Linked DNA regions of Homo sapiens. The protein of the gene in region 2 interacts with the protein of the main gene of each other region in a biochemical or structural test. Each region holds a gene or a part of one and is shown on either strand. Other genes may lie near its edges.

Region 1 (7,029 bases), about 37 Mb from region 2:
TACTTTACGTGTTGATATTAATATTACTATAATTTCAACCAATCTGTCATTTACATGGAATGACAAATACACTGAATACATATTTTAGGATAGTTAAATTTAGTATTATTCATAATTTACTTTGAATTATTATCATCTGACAACTTCCCTGAAACAATTTCAGTGGGCGGGGGAGGGTAGAAATGGATGTTGATGAGGATAAGAATAGAACAAAGTGATTCTGGAAGATGGGGTTTTCCCAGGTAGGACAGATCTGCTGGTTGAAGTGCTATAGTGAGTGCTATAAGAGAAGGGGTAGAGAAAATGCCCACAGAAATGGCACGAGCCTGAGACGTCTGCCAAGGCAAGCTTTGCTTATTTTAAATTTAGGCATATCCTGGGAATGCATATGCTACTCTTTTGCCTACATATAATTTAAACTAAAAATGAAATATCTAAGTATTGCTAACTAAAATTATTCTTAGGTAGAAGTAAGTTCCCAAATATAAGTTCAAAAGCAGATTGGTAAATGTTCTTCATGTGTGGCCTTTGGTTTCTAAGATCTGAGCCAGTCTACATTGACCCACTTTTATTTGCTTAATCCTCGATTGTTTATTCTGCAGTCTTTTGCCACTTTTCATTCTTCCCAGTTATGCCTTCTCCTCCTCCCCACACACACCATCCCCCACCTGCCTAGGCCTTTGAGATTCTGCCACCCAATCTATCCCGTGCTCAGTTAACTAACGTGTACTTTACCCATTTCTTCACAAAACCATAGTACATGGAAAGGGGATGATGTAATTGACAAAAAAGTATTGCATTTTAGCTTAAAATTATAAGGAGTCATAAAAAGATAGCTCAGAGGAAATAAAGTAACTGAACATCAAAAAATGAAACAATAAAAAGGAAAGAAAAAACATTTGACAGAACACTTTTATTTCTTCTGACATTTTAACTTAGCCAAGTTTTTCATAAACCTTGTTAACTGGAAATGTAATAGATAGAAAAGTGATTATTCTTCCAGGCCGGGCATGGTGGCTCACACCTGTAATCCCAACACTTTGGGAGGCCCAGGTGGGTGGATCACCATGTCAGGAGTTCGAGACCAGCCTGACCAAAATGGTGAAACCCCATCTCTACTAAAAATACAAAAATTAGCCAGGCGTGGTGGCGCGTGCCTGTAATCTCAGCTACTCAGGAGGCTGAGGCAGGAGAATTGCTTGAATCAGGGAGGCGGAGGTTGCAGTGAGCTGAGATCATGCCATTGCCCTTCAGCTTGGGCGACAGAGGGAGATTCCATCTCAAAAAGAAAAAAAAAAAAAAGAAAGAAAGAAAGAAAGAAAAGGAAAAAGCAATATTCTTTCAGAAACTCCTGAACTGTAACATAAATTTAAGCTTAGGACACATAGGTCAGATGTACAATGGAATTACAAATGTTAGAGTTTCCTGGGTTCTTGCAACAGAGTTTTAAGTGCACTAAACAGTTATCACCTTGTCTTCTCTTATATTTTCTAGTCACTACTGTCTACTACGCTTTTTCCACAGGCTGTCCATAATCTACAGATATAATGGAAAGGCTTCCAGATAGTTTCATTGTTACTCATCTGTTCTTTCGCTCATTCATTTTTCCATCACTTTAACTTCCACAAGTACTACTTAGTAATACTTGGTACAATGTGTGTTGCGTTTTTTTTTTTTTTTCTCTATTTTCAGGGTCCTAATTGTACTGTCTCTTTGTGGCTGAGTTCGTTTTTTGTGACTGGAACAATAACTGGCATTAGAAATTAGCTATTCAAATACACATTTCAAGAAAGTTGTGGAATTTCAACCCATGTTCTGATAGTATCTTGTTTTATCTCTAATTATGACATACTTGTTATTCTATCCAACTTCATGTGACTATCGTCTATTCTCCTATCTGCTTTTTATGGTTCTGGAATTTTCTTCTTGCTCTTTTCACTGTTAAGTTGTTTGTTTGTTTGTTTGTTTGTTTTGAGACAGGATCTCGCTTTGTTGCCTGAGGCTGGAGTGCCCACGCTGGAGTGCAGTGGTGCGATCATAGTTCACTGCAGCTTCCAACACCTGGGCTCAAGCAATCCTCCTGCCTCAGCCTCCCACACCTAGCTAAATTTTTTTCTTTTCTTTTTTCTTTTTCTTTCTCAAATGCCTATTAAGTGTGACATAATCTCTATTCTGCTTTGTCTCTAGAGTTTGTTTCTTTAAACAATTCTTTACTCTGTTTACAAAGGTATATATGTTACTTCTGAAATGATCTTTATTCTCATGTTATTTATAAAATAATTTGAATATTTCTTATTTTGAAAAGCTAATTAGATCATATCGTATATATGCATATAGAATTGACCCTTGACCAATATGTGCTTGAACTTCAGGGGTCTGCTTACTATGTGAATTTGTTTCAACTAAACCTGGGTCAAAAATACAGTATTGGTGGGTTGCAAAACTTAAGCATAGGAAAAACTGACTTTTCGTACATGCGGTTTCCAGAGAGCCAAATGTAGAATTTAAGTATGTGCAGATTTTGGCCTGTGTGGGAGTCCTGGAATATATATCCCCTGTGTATACCAAAGCCAAAGGATTATTGAATAAATAGTATTACTATAGATCAGTGAGAAGATAAGAAAGAAATTTAATGCAAAATACCTATTTTTGCTATTTCTGTTTTGTTCATTTGCTTTATTTTTTTCCAAATTGATTTTGTAACTTTGCTTTATAATATATTCTGATACCTACTAAGTTTAGAAGTAGGCTATTTAAAAAATAATATCTACTGTTTTTTATGCACAAAATAATTTTAGAAAAATAGAATAATTGAACAAAGAGACCAACTTTAGTCTACCAAAACAATCTAGCACAAATTTGATTAAGGATTTCCCAAATATATAATTTTATCATGATTTATTTCATTTGAATAAAAACACTTTTCAACTAACAGTTAAAAGATATATTGACATTGAAAATAAGTAATTAGTTCTATGTTTGTATGTCAATAATAAGTAATTAGCTTGGTGTTTGTATGTCAATAATGCCCCCTTAAAATTTGAAAGTGAAAAAATTAGGTAAATTAAGATTATTAAAATATTAAGTAATATTGATTTTTAGCTTTGACCAAAATTATATAACTATTTTCCTCAAATTATAGTAAAAACATTCCTACTCTTTACCAGTAGTTAAACGTATTCACACTCTTAATTCATGGGCTAAAAAAAAACTTGATTTTGTTTAGTATTATTCTTACTTTTTTGAGACAGGGAATCACTTTGTCACCCAGGCTGCAGCGTACTGGTGCAATCATGGCTCACTGCAGCCTCGACCTCCTGGGCTCAAGCAGTCCTCCCACCTAAGCATCCCAAGTAGCAGGGATTACAGCCACCTTGCTCAGGTAATTTTTTTTTTTTTTTTTTTTTTGAGATGGAGTCTTGCTCTGTCGCCCAGGCTGGAGTGCAGTGTCGCTATCTCGGCTCACTGCAAGCTCCGCCTCCCGGGTTCACGCCATTCTCCTGCCTCAGCCTCCCGAGTAGCTGGGACTACAGGCACCCACCACCAAGCCCGGCTATTTTTTTGTATTTGTAGTAGAGACGGAGTTTCACCGTGTTAGTGTTAGTCAGGATGGTCTGGATCTCCTGACCTCGTGATCTGGTGATCTGCCGGCCTTGGCCTCCCAAAGTGCTGGGATTACAGGCATGAGCCACCGCGCCCGGCCTGCTCAGGTAATTTTTAAAATTTTTTGTAGAGACAGGGTTTCACCACGTTGCCCAGGCTGGTCTTGAACTCCTGGGGTCTATTGATCCTCTTGACTTGGCATGTCAAAGTGCTGGGATTATAAGCATGACCCACTGCATCCAGACTAAAACTAATTTTAAATTGTAAAATAAAGCCAAATGAATTAAAGCTTCACCAATGTAGTGTTTTGTAAACAAAATTAACTGGCAATTAAATGACTTGTAAACGTAAGATGAAGTATTCATTGTTTAAACTCAAATACTTAGATATGATGGCTTAGTCTACTCATTAATCTAGAATGAGAAAAATGAGATGGCTATTTCTTTTAGTTTTAAGATAAATCACATCTCAAAAAAATGTTTCTGTGCCTTTCAATTTGTATGCATCCTATTTAATAAGCCCGTTGTACATACATGCTGAGAGTTTGACTACTTGGGCCAAAATAACCGTTTGTTGTCTACTTGAAGGTGGTTCAACTGAGCTTGAACATTCGATTGTTAGTCAATTCAGGCAAATAAAAGTTATGTCACAAGATATACCTAATTATTATTAGAACTCAGTGCAGTGAATCATTACCTTAAATACTTTTGCTATGGCATGAGTTGATAATGATGTAGGACAGCAAGCCCCCAAATTGGGTCTTAGCCTGGGAAGGTTCTTGGTTTTGTCCAGTAAAGAATTCAAGGGTGAGCCTGTGGTGTTAAACAGCAATTTTTGTTGAAGTGGCAGTGTATAGCAGCCTCAGAGGCACCTCTCCTTGCTAAGCAGGGCTACCCATAGGCAGTGTGCCCACAGTAGCAGCTCAGAGGCAGTTCTGCACTCATATTTATATGCACTTTTAATTATATGGAAATTAAGAGGTAGTTAATGCTGAAATTGCCAGGAGGAGGATGGTAACTTCCGGTTGTTGGGTCATTGCTGTGGAAAGGGCCTGTAACTTCTGGGTGTTGCCATGGTAATGGTAAACTGTCATAGCACACTGGTCTGTGTGTCTTACAGGGAGGGGCTTCCACTCAGACCTGTTTTGGATAATCCTCAATTTGGTCCAGTGTCCAAGTCCCATCTCCTATCTCAATAATACTCAATACAATAATGGTTAGAACAAAAGCAGACAGGAAAGTGTATCTGAAGTGAGAAGACCTAGACATTAATGAAAATTCTTCCACGAACTATGAAAAACATTGTTCTTCAATTGTGGGGAGCTTACATTTTGATGTGGGGAGATAGATAGAAAACCTAATGAACAAAAATAGTTATAGCATTGTGAAAAATTTTGTGAAGGAGGTAAAGTAGGGCCTAAGAGAAAATAGAGATGGGGATGGTAGTATGTAGAGACATTAGGTGGGCTTGGTCTTGGGGACTAGAATGAGTGGATCACTTTGAGGACAGAACATTTGAGTAGAGGCCTGAAAGATGAGACAAAGCCAGTCATCAGAAATCTGTCGTAAAATTATTCTAAGAGGAGGAAATAACCCGTGTAAAGGATCTAAGGAAAAAATAAGTTTGAAATGCTCAACAAAATATAAACAAATAAATCAGCGTGACTTTGCACAGTAAATACATGGGAGATTTAACATGATGAGATCCGAGAAAGTGGCAAGAGCCAGATAAGGGGTTCCCAAACCAAGGAAAGGAGTTAGCAATGCTGGATAAGTAAAAAGTGAAGTCATAGAAGAATTTTAATCACAGGAATGACATGACCAGATTTGCAAGAATCACTTGTCACTCTGTGAATAGACTGAAGTAACAGGAGAGTAGAGGACTGGAGGCTAGTTAGCAGGCAAGTTTCATGACCAAAGTGACAGATGATGATCTGAACTAAGATTTTGAAGATGGTAGTAGGAGCAAGGGAAAATAGAACAGGGGCGGTCATATCTTTTTCTTACAAGCAGAATCAAAAGATGCCATTTAACACTGATGGAAAAAGCACCAGAATTTTAAGTACTATTTGAAGAGAAAAGGTAATCAATATGATAATTCTTTATATATAGTAAACATATTCACAGAGTAAATATTGTGAGAAGTTGGTAGGAAGATTTTGTGGAAGAGATGTATCCTTGTTTTCTACATCTGGTTGTTAAAAGCAATGAACTATATTTGGAAATCAAGAATTAGGGGCACAAACGTATCACCTGGAAATATAATAATAACCAGAAGGGAAAGCATTTACTTCTCACTAGGAAGTGAGCGGGCTAAACTTTTTTTGTGTTAATGGATTACTTTACTTATTTATTTTTTCCAATAACCTGAACATCATCAAATGGATCTAAATTTTGAAAGTGAAAAACAAACATATCAGCTTGTAATTAATCAGTTTTCCTTTTGTGCGGAAGGGGCCGGGGATTGTGTTGTTATGATAGAGTATTAGCACCATCTAGTGGAGTAGAATATGTTTACTTAAATTATAAACATCGAAATAGTGCAATGTGGAATCACATATTATATGAGTTCACTAATACAAATTTGCAAAAAGGTCAAGGGAAAATTAGTGCCCATAAAAACTTTCACATTATTTTGTAAAATATAATTTTATATGGTGTTTTCTTTCTTATGAAATATTGCAAAATGTTTTCATATGGATTTGTTCCACCATGTTAATGGGCACTTCTAAAACTTTTTTCTTTGGGCTGCTACAACAAAATATTATTAACTGCCTAGCTTATAAACAACAGGAATGTATTTCTTACACTTCTGAATGCTAGAAAGTCTAACAGCAAGATAGTACCAGCAGATTCAGTGTTTGGTGAGGTCTGCTCTCTGGTTCATAGACAGTGCCTTTTGGCTGTGTCCTCCAATGATGAAAGGGACAAGGCAGCTCTGTGGTGCCTCTTCTATAAAGGCACACATCCCAAATCATGACAGCTCCACCTTCACGACCTAATCACTTCCCAGTGTCCCCACCTCCTAATACTATCACATTGGTAATTAGGTTTAAACATATAAATTGGGGGTTGTGGGGAGGTTGCATGTATTCAGAGCATAGCATATGCCTTCTTAACTTACTAAAGTCTAATAATAATTTATCACTCAGGATTCAATGCGGGAAGCTTAAGTAGAAGTAGAAGATTACCTATCTATCAGTCAATTAATTGATTGACATACCAATCTCCTATCTACCTACTTAAAAAGAGGTTTTGTTTTGTTTGTTTTGTTTTGTTTTGTTTTTTAAATAAATTGCCTCAAGGAATTGTGAGCATGAGATAAGCAAGTCTGAAATCCACAGGGCAGGTAGTCAGAAAAGGAAGATTACAGACAGGATGGAACTCACAGGAAAGGAAGCTGCTTTCCACAGAATTCCCTCTCTTT
Region 2 (7,641 bases):
ACATGTTTGGGGAGGACTCATGAAACTTACAATCATGGTGGAAGGTGAAGGGGAAGCAGGCATTTTCTTCACAAGGCAGCAGGAGAGAGACAGTGTGAGTGGGGGACTGCCAAGCACTTTTATTTAAATCATCAGACCTAGTGAGAACTCATTATCATGAGCACAGCATGGGCAAAACTACCTCCACGATCCAATCTTCTCCCACCATGTCCCTCCCTCAACTCATGGGGATTACAATTTGAGATGACATTTGGGTGGGAACACAGAACCAAACCATATCATTCCACCTCTGGCTCCTCCAAAATATCATGTTCTTTTCACATTTCAAAACCAATCATACCTTCCCAACAGTCACCCAAACTTAACTCATTTCAGCATTAACTCAAAAGTCCAAGTCTAAAGTTCCATCTGAGAAAAGGCAAGTCACTTCTGCCTATTAGCCTAGTAAAATAAAAAACAAGTTAGTTACTTCCAAGATACAGTGGGGGTATAGGCATTGGGTAAATGGTCCTGTTTGAAATGGGAGAAATTGGCCAAAACAAAGGGGCCACAGGCCCCATGTAAATCCAAAATCTGGCAGGACACTCATGAAATCTTAAAGCTCCAAAATAATCTCCTTTGATTCTTTGTCTCACATCCAGGGCATGCTGATGCAAGCGGTAGGCTTCCATGGCCTTGGGTAGCTCCATACTTGTGGCTCTTCAGGGTACAGCCCCTGTGGCTGCTTTCACAGGCTGGCATTGAACACTTGCAAGCTTTTCTAAGCACAAGGTGCAAACTGTCAGTGGTTCTACCATTCTGGGATCTGGAGGACAGTGGCCCTCTTCTCACAGATCCACTAGGCAGTGCCCCAGTGGGGACTCTGTGTGGAGACTCCAACCCCACATTTCCCTGCTGCATTGCCCTAGTAGAGGTTTTCTGTGAGGGCTCCATGCCTGCAGAAGACTTCTGCCTGAACATCCAGGTGTTTCCATACATCTTCTGAAATCTAGACAGAAACTCCCAAAGCTCAACTCTTGTCTTCTGTGCATCTGCACCCTCAACACTACTTGGAAGCCACCAAGGCTTGGGGCTTGTGCCCTCTGAAGCAATGGCCTGAGCTATATACATTGCCCCCTTTTAGCCATGGCTGGAGCCGCAGCAGCTGGCACACAGGGTGCCATGTTCCTGGGCTGCACAGAGCAGCGGGGCCCTGGGCCTGGCCCATGATACCATTTTTTCCTCCTAGGCTTTTGGACCTCTGATGGGAGGGGCTGCCATGAAGATCTTCTGAAATGACCTGAAGACATTTTCCTCATTGTTTTGGCTATCAACATTCATCTCCTCATTACTTATGCAAATTTCTGCAGCCAGCTTGAATTTTTCCCCAGAAAATGGGTTTTTCTTTTCTACCACATGGTCAGGCTGCACATTTTCCAAACTTTTATGCTCCCTTTCCCTTTTAAACATAAGTTCCAATTTCAGATCATCTCTTTGTGAACACATATGATTGTATGTTTTCAGAAAAAGCCAGGTCACTTCTTGAATGCTTTGGTGCTTAGAAATTTCTTAAGCACCAAAGCATTCAAGAAATCATGTCTCTTAAGTTAAAAGTTCCACAGATCTCTAGGGCATGGGCAAAATGCCACCATTGTCTTTGCTAAAACATAGAAAGAGTGACCTTTACTCCCGTTTCCAATAAGTTCCTCATCTCCATCTAAGGACACCTCTGCATGAACTTCATTTTCCATATCACTATCAGCATTTTGGTCAAAACCATTCAACAAAACTCAGGAAGTTCCAAGCTTTTCCACATCTTCCTGTCTTCTCCTGAGCCCTCCAAACTCTTCCAGCCTCTGCCCCTAGTTGGTTCCAAAGTTGCTTCCACATTTTTAGGAATCTTTATAGCAGTATCCCACTATCCTGGTACCAATTTTCTGTATTAGTTTGTTTTTACACTGCTATAAAGAGCTACCTGAAACCGGGTAATTTATAAACAAAAGAGGTTCAATTGACTCACAGTTCTGCATGGCTCGGGAGGCCTCAGGAAACTTACAATTATGGCAGAAGGCAAAGGGGAAGCAGGTACCTTCTTCACAAGGTGGCAGGAGAGATAGAGGGTGGGGAGGAACTGCCAAACACTTTTAAACCATCAGATCTTGTGAGAACCCACTCACTAAAATGAGAACAGCATGGGGGAAACCGCTCCTATGATCCACCCACCTCCCACCAGGTCCCTCCCTTGACATGTGGGGATTGCAATTCAAGATGAGATTTGGGTGAGGACACAGAGCCAAACCATATCAGATAGAGAGTGGTGGGACAGAGGACCACTTCTTTTAGGCATAAAGCCTTGAAATTATTTCACTTTTAAACTAGGAGCAAGAATTCAGGAGGAAGTTGGCTGGGCATGATGGCTCATGCCTGTAATCCCAGCACTTTGGGAGGCTGAGGTGGGCAGATCATGAGGTCAGGAGATTGAGACCATTCTGGCTAACATGGTGAAACCCCGTCTCTACTAAAAATACAAAAAATTAGCTGGGTGTGGTGGCGTGTGCCTATAATCCCAGCTACTCAGAAGGCTGAGGCAGGAGAATCACTTGAACCCAGGAGGCAGAGGTTGCAGTGAGCTGAGATTATGTCACTGCACTCCAGCCTGGGCGACAGAGCGAGATTCCATCTCACAAAAAAAAAAAAAAAAGAAAAGAAAAGAAAGAATTCAGGAGGAAGTTATAAACTGTGTTGAATATTGCCAAGAAGCTGGGTAAAATAAGAACAGAAAATTCATTATTAGATTTAATGAGAGAGGTGTTTGTTTATGTTGGCTTCACTAGAGTGGTGAAGGCCAATGGCTGATTTCCATGGATTGAGGAGGGAACAGGAGATGGAAAATAGAGGTTGTCAACCCACGTAAACTTTTCCTTCCTTCCTCCCTCTCTCCCTCCCATCCTTCCTTTTTTCTCTTTTCTTTCTTCTTTCTCTAAAAGATTAAATATATTATAGTATGGTTTTGTGGAAATGATCAAGTAAAGATGAATAAATTAATAATACAGAAGATAGAGAGGATACCTATAGGAGCAAAATTCCTTGCATAGTCGACAGGGTCTGGGATCCACTGAAGAATTGCAAGGGTTGGCCTTAGATGTAACACAGGGAGAGCTCATCCCTTTTAATAGAGGAAGACAGAAAGGCTGGTACATTGGGTTGTAGGAGGATATATAAGGATATCAGTTAGGTGTTAAGAACAGAAAGACTGAGTTAACAGTGATTTAACAAAAGAGGAGAGTATTTCTCCTTTAAGTAAATTTTCAGGTAGGCAGCCTAGAGCTGATGCAGTGGCTCCATACCCAATTATCCAGGCTCCATCTATCTTGTTGCCATGCCAACCTCAACATGCAGCTTACACTTGCTGGCCTGAAAGTGAACTATTCCATCTCCTGCTATCATGACTGAATACTAGTCAAAGGGAAAAAGGGGGAAGTGGGAGGGGAAAGCACATACCTTTCTTAAAGAGCACAACCTAGAGATGGTCCCTATTCTGTTCATATCTCGTTGGCCTTAATTTAATCACATCATCACTGCAAGCTACAGTGGGGGCTGGGAAATTTGGTGTTTGAGGGGATGACCAAGCGCCCAACTGAAAATGTTATTCTTCTCTTATGAGAAGTAGAGAATGGATGTTAGGGAATGGCTAGAAGACTCTACTACAAAGGATACGGTGGTTCTTTTCTGATTGCTTCTAACTTCTCAATGAAAGGTGAGTTCATCAGCTGAATGAAAGAATAAATGAGATTTTGGGGACTTGAGGAGCAAGGAGAAGGAGTATAATAGTCATTTTGAAGAGTGAGTTAAGTAGGGAACTGTAGTAAGATTGACAGACAGTGTGGAGGGATTACTTGAATCTTGTGAATAGAGGAAAGAGTAGAATCAGATTATCCTGACTCCTGCCTGAAGCTTTACATATTCAGAGAAAAATGTTGGAAGAAACTTTGATATAATGCTATGTCTGTGATCAGGCACACATTTTACTGGACTTTTACTGTCAGGGCCGTCATTTAGTGCCAAGATGTCTAGAGAGTTCTTAATAAGTGTACTCAATTGGCTGAGAAAATGTGTCCATGCAAAAAACCAAACACCGCGTGTTCTCACTCATAGATGGGAATTGAACAATGAGAATACTTGGACACAGGAAGGGGAACATCACACTCTGGGGACTGTTGTGGGGTGGGGGGAGGGGGGAGGGATAGCATTAGAAGATATACCTAATGCTAAATGATGAGTTAATGGGTGCAGCACACCAGCATGGCACATGTATACATATGTAACTAACCTGCACATTGTGCACATGTACCCTAAAACTTAAAGTATAATAATAATAAAAAAATGTGTCCATGGCTCTGGGAGGAGCATGTTTGTTTTCCTCATTTCCCAGTCTGTAAATAAGCAAATTGAAAGGGGTTAGTGATAATGTCCATCTCCAGAAGCTGTCAGATTTCCTTTGTCAAACTCTATGATTTGGGCTGAAGTAGGTGTTGGAGAGGCAGCTACCACGTGCACCCAGATGGCCACTCGTTTAATATGTTACCATTTCCCATTATTTTCGCAGGATAGATAGCCAAAGTGGAGCCCTGAGAGATTTCTTCATTTTTCCTGTCATAAAGAATTGGTAATTCAGTAGTCATAGGAGTTTGTAATAAATAACTCACATTGATTTCTCTGTTCTGAAATAATTTTGCTTCCCCTCTTCCCGAAGCTCTGACACCTGCCCCAACAAGCAATGTTGGAAAATTATTTACATAGTGGCGCAAACTCCCTTACTGCTTTGGATATAAATCCAGGCAGGAGGAGGTAGCTCTAAGGCAAGAGATCTAGGACTTCTAGCCCCTGAACTTTCAGCCGAATACATCTTTTCCAAAGGAGTGAATTCAGGCCCTTGTATCACTGGCAGCAGGACGTGACCATGGAGAAGCTGTTGTGTTTCTTGGTCTTGACCAGCCTCTCTCATGCTTTTGGCCAGACAGGTAAGGGCCACCCCAGGCTATGGGAGAGATTTGATCTGAGGTATGGGGGTGGGGTCTAAGACTGCATGAACAGTCTCAAAAAAAAAAAAAAAAGACTGTATGAACAGAACAGTGGAGCATCCTTCATGGTGTGTGTGTGTGTGTGTGTGTGTGTGTGTGTGTGTGTGGTGTGTAACTGGAGAAGGGGTCAGTCTGTTTCTCAATCTTAAATTCTATACGTAAGTGAGGGGATAGATCTGTGTGATCTGAGAAACCTCTCACATTTGCTTGTTTTTCTGGCTCACAGACATGTCGAGGAAGGCTTTTGTGTTTCCCAAAGAGTCGGATACTTCCTATGTATCCCTCAAAGCACCGTTAACGAAGCCTCTCAAAGCCTTCACTGTGTGCCTCCACTTCTACACGGAACTGTCCTCGACCCGTGGGTACAGTATTTTCTCGTATGCCACCAAGAGACAAGACAATGAGATTCTCATATTTTGGTCTAAGGATATAGGATACAGTTTTACAGTGGGTGGGTCTGAAATATTATTCGAGGTTCCTGAAGTCACAGTAGCTCCAGTACACATTTGTACAAGCTGGGAGTCCGCCTCAGGGATCGTGGAGTTCTGGGTAGATGGGAAGCCCAGGGTGAGGAAGAGTCTGAAGAAGGGATACACTGTGGGGGCAGAAGCAAGCATCATCTTGGGGCAGGAGCAGGATTCCTTCGGTGGGAACTTTGAAGGAAGCCAGTCCCTGGTGGGAGACATTGGAAATGTGAACATGTGGGACTTTGTGCTGTCACCAGATGAGATTAACACCATCTATCTTGGCGGGCCCTTCAGTCCTAATGTCCTGAACTGGCGGGCACTGAAGTATGAAGTGCAAGGCGAAGTGTTCACCAAACCCCAGCTGTGGCCCTGAGGCCCAGCTGTGGGTCCTGAAGGTACCTCCCGGTTTTTTACACCGCATGGGCCCCACGTCTCTGTCTCTGGTACCTCCCGCTTTTTTACACTGCATGGTTCCCACGTCTCTGTCTCTGGGCCTTTGTTCCCCTATATGCATTGCAGGCCTGCTCCACCCTCCTCAGCGCCTGAGAATGGAGGTAAAGTGTCTGGTCTGGGAGCTCGTTAACTATGCTGGGAAACGGTCCAAAAGAATCAGAATTTGAGGTGTTTTGTTTTCATTTTTATTTCAAGTTGGACAGATCTTGGAGATAATTTCTTACCTCACATAGATGAGAAAACTAACACCCAGAAAGGAGAAATGATGTTATAAAAAACTCATAAGGCAAGAGCTGAGAAGGAAGCGCTGATCTTCTATTTAATTCCCCACCCATGACCCCCAGAAAGCAGGAGGGCATTGCCCACATTCACAGGGCTCTTCAGTCTCAGAATCAGGACACTGGCCAGGTGTCTGGTTTGGGTCCAGAGTGCTCATCATCATGTCATAGAACTGCTGGGCCCAGGTCTCCTGAAATGGGAAGCCCAGCAATACCACGCAGTCCCTCCACTTTCTCAAAGCACACTGGAAAGGCCATTAGAATTGCCCCAGCAGAGCAGATCTGCTTTTTTTCCAGAGCAAAATGAAGCACTAGGTATAAATATGTTGTTACTGCCAAGAACTTAAATGACTGGTTTTTGTTTGCTTGCAGTGCTTTCTTAATTTTATGGCTCTTCTGGGAAACTCCTCCCCTTTTCCACACGAACCTTGTGGGGCTGTGAATTCTTTCTTCATCCCCGCATTCCCAATATACCCAGGCCACAAGAGTGGACGTGAACCACAGGGTGTCCTGTCAGAGGAGCCCATCTCCCATCTCCCCAGCTCCCTATCTGGAGGATAGTTGGATAGTTACGTGTTCCTAGCAGGACCAACTACAGTCTTCCCAAGGATTGAGTTATGGACTTTGGGAGTGAGACATCTTCTTGCTGCTGGATTTCCAAGCTGAGAGGACGTGAACCTGGGACCACCAGTAGCCATCTTGTTTGCCACATGGAGAGAGACTGTGAGGACAGAAGCCAAACTGGAAGTGGAGGAGCCAAGGGATTGACAAACAACAGAGCCTTGACCACGTGGAGTCTCTGAATCAGCCTTGTCTGGAACCAGATCTACACCTGGACTGCCCAGGTCTATAAGCCAATAAAGCCCCTGTTTACTTGAGTGAGTCCAAGCTGTTTTCTGATAGTTGCTTTAGAAGTTGTGACTAACTTCTCTAATGACCTTTGAAATCAAGTCCCTGTAAGTTTACACTTCCCATTACACAACATATCCATGGCACTTTAACCTGTCCAAGAGTCCCCTGAAGGGATTCCCTCTGACAAGCACAGTCCCTCTTTTGAGATAGCTGGCCATTCATGTAGGGCCAGTTGTGGGGGTTTTAGTACTCTCATTCTATCATTATTCCAATTTGAGGAGCAAAAACTAAAGATCATTGAGATCCATGGATCTGCTGCCAGGTTCAGTGACTGGAATGCACTTGCCCCAGCGGGTTCAAGTTCTTTGTAGAAACAGACCCCTCAAAGATGACAGCAGCTGGCTTCCTCCAGAAGTGTCCTTCAACACTGTCTTTCAGTACTAAGTGACCAGTAGAAGTTACTCCATAAAGACCATAGCCAGGAATGAATTATGGGGCTTCCTGCATATCAAATGGTTACCTAGGGAAGGC

What was found. The genes of interacting proteins can lie anywhere in the genome.
Region 1: the proteins of CRP (region 2) and CFH form a complex in vitro, tested with the Homo sapiens proteins (12 studies listed by BioGRID and IntAct, with this or other methods).

The regions. Positions count from the first base shown.
Region 1 is NC_000001.11:196,655,022-196,662,050, forward strand, and holds part of CFH (complement factor H isoform a precursor), read left to right. Parts: intron 1-7,029. UniProt on the Homo sapiens protein: Glycoprotein that plays an essential role in maintaining a well-balanced immune response by modulating complement activation.
Region 2 is NC_000001.11:159,711,784-159,719,424, reverse strand, and holds CRP (C-reactive protein isoform 1 precursor), read left to right. Parts: upstream 1-4,835; 5' UTR 4,836-4,939; coding exon 4,940-5,000; intron 5,001-5,286; coding exon 5,287-5,900; 3' UTR 5,901-7,136; downstream 7,137-7,641. UniProt on the Homo sapiens protein: Displays several functions associated with host defense: it promotes agglutination, bacterial capsular swelling, phagocytosis and complement fixation through its calcium-dependent binding to phosphorylcholine.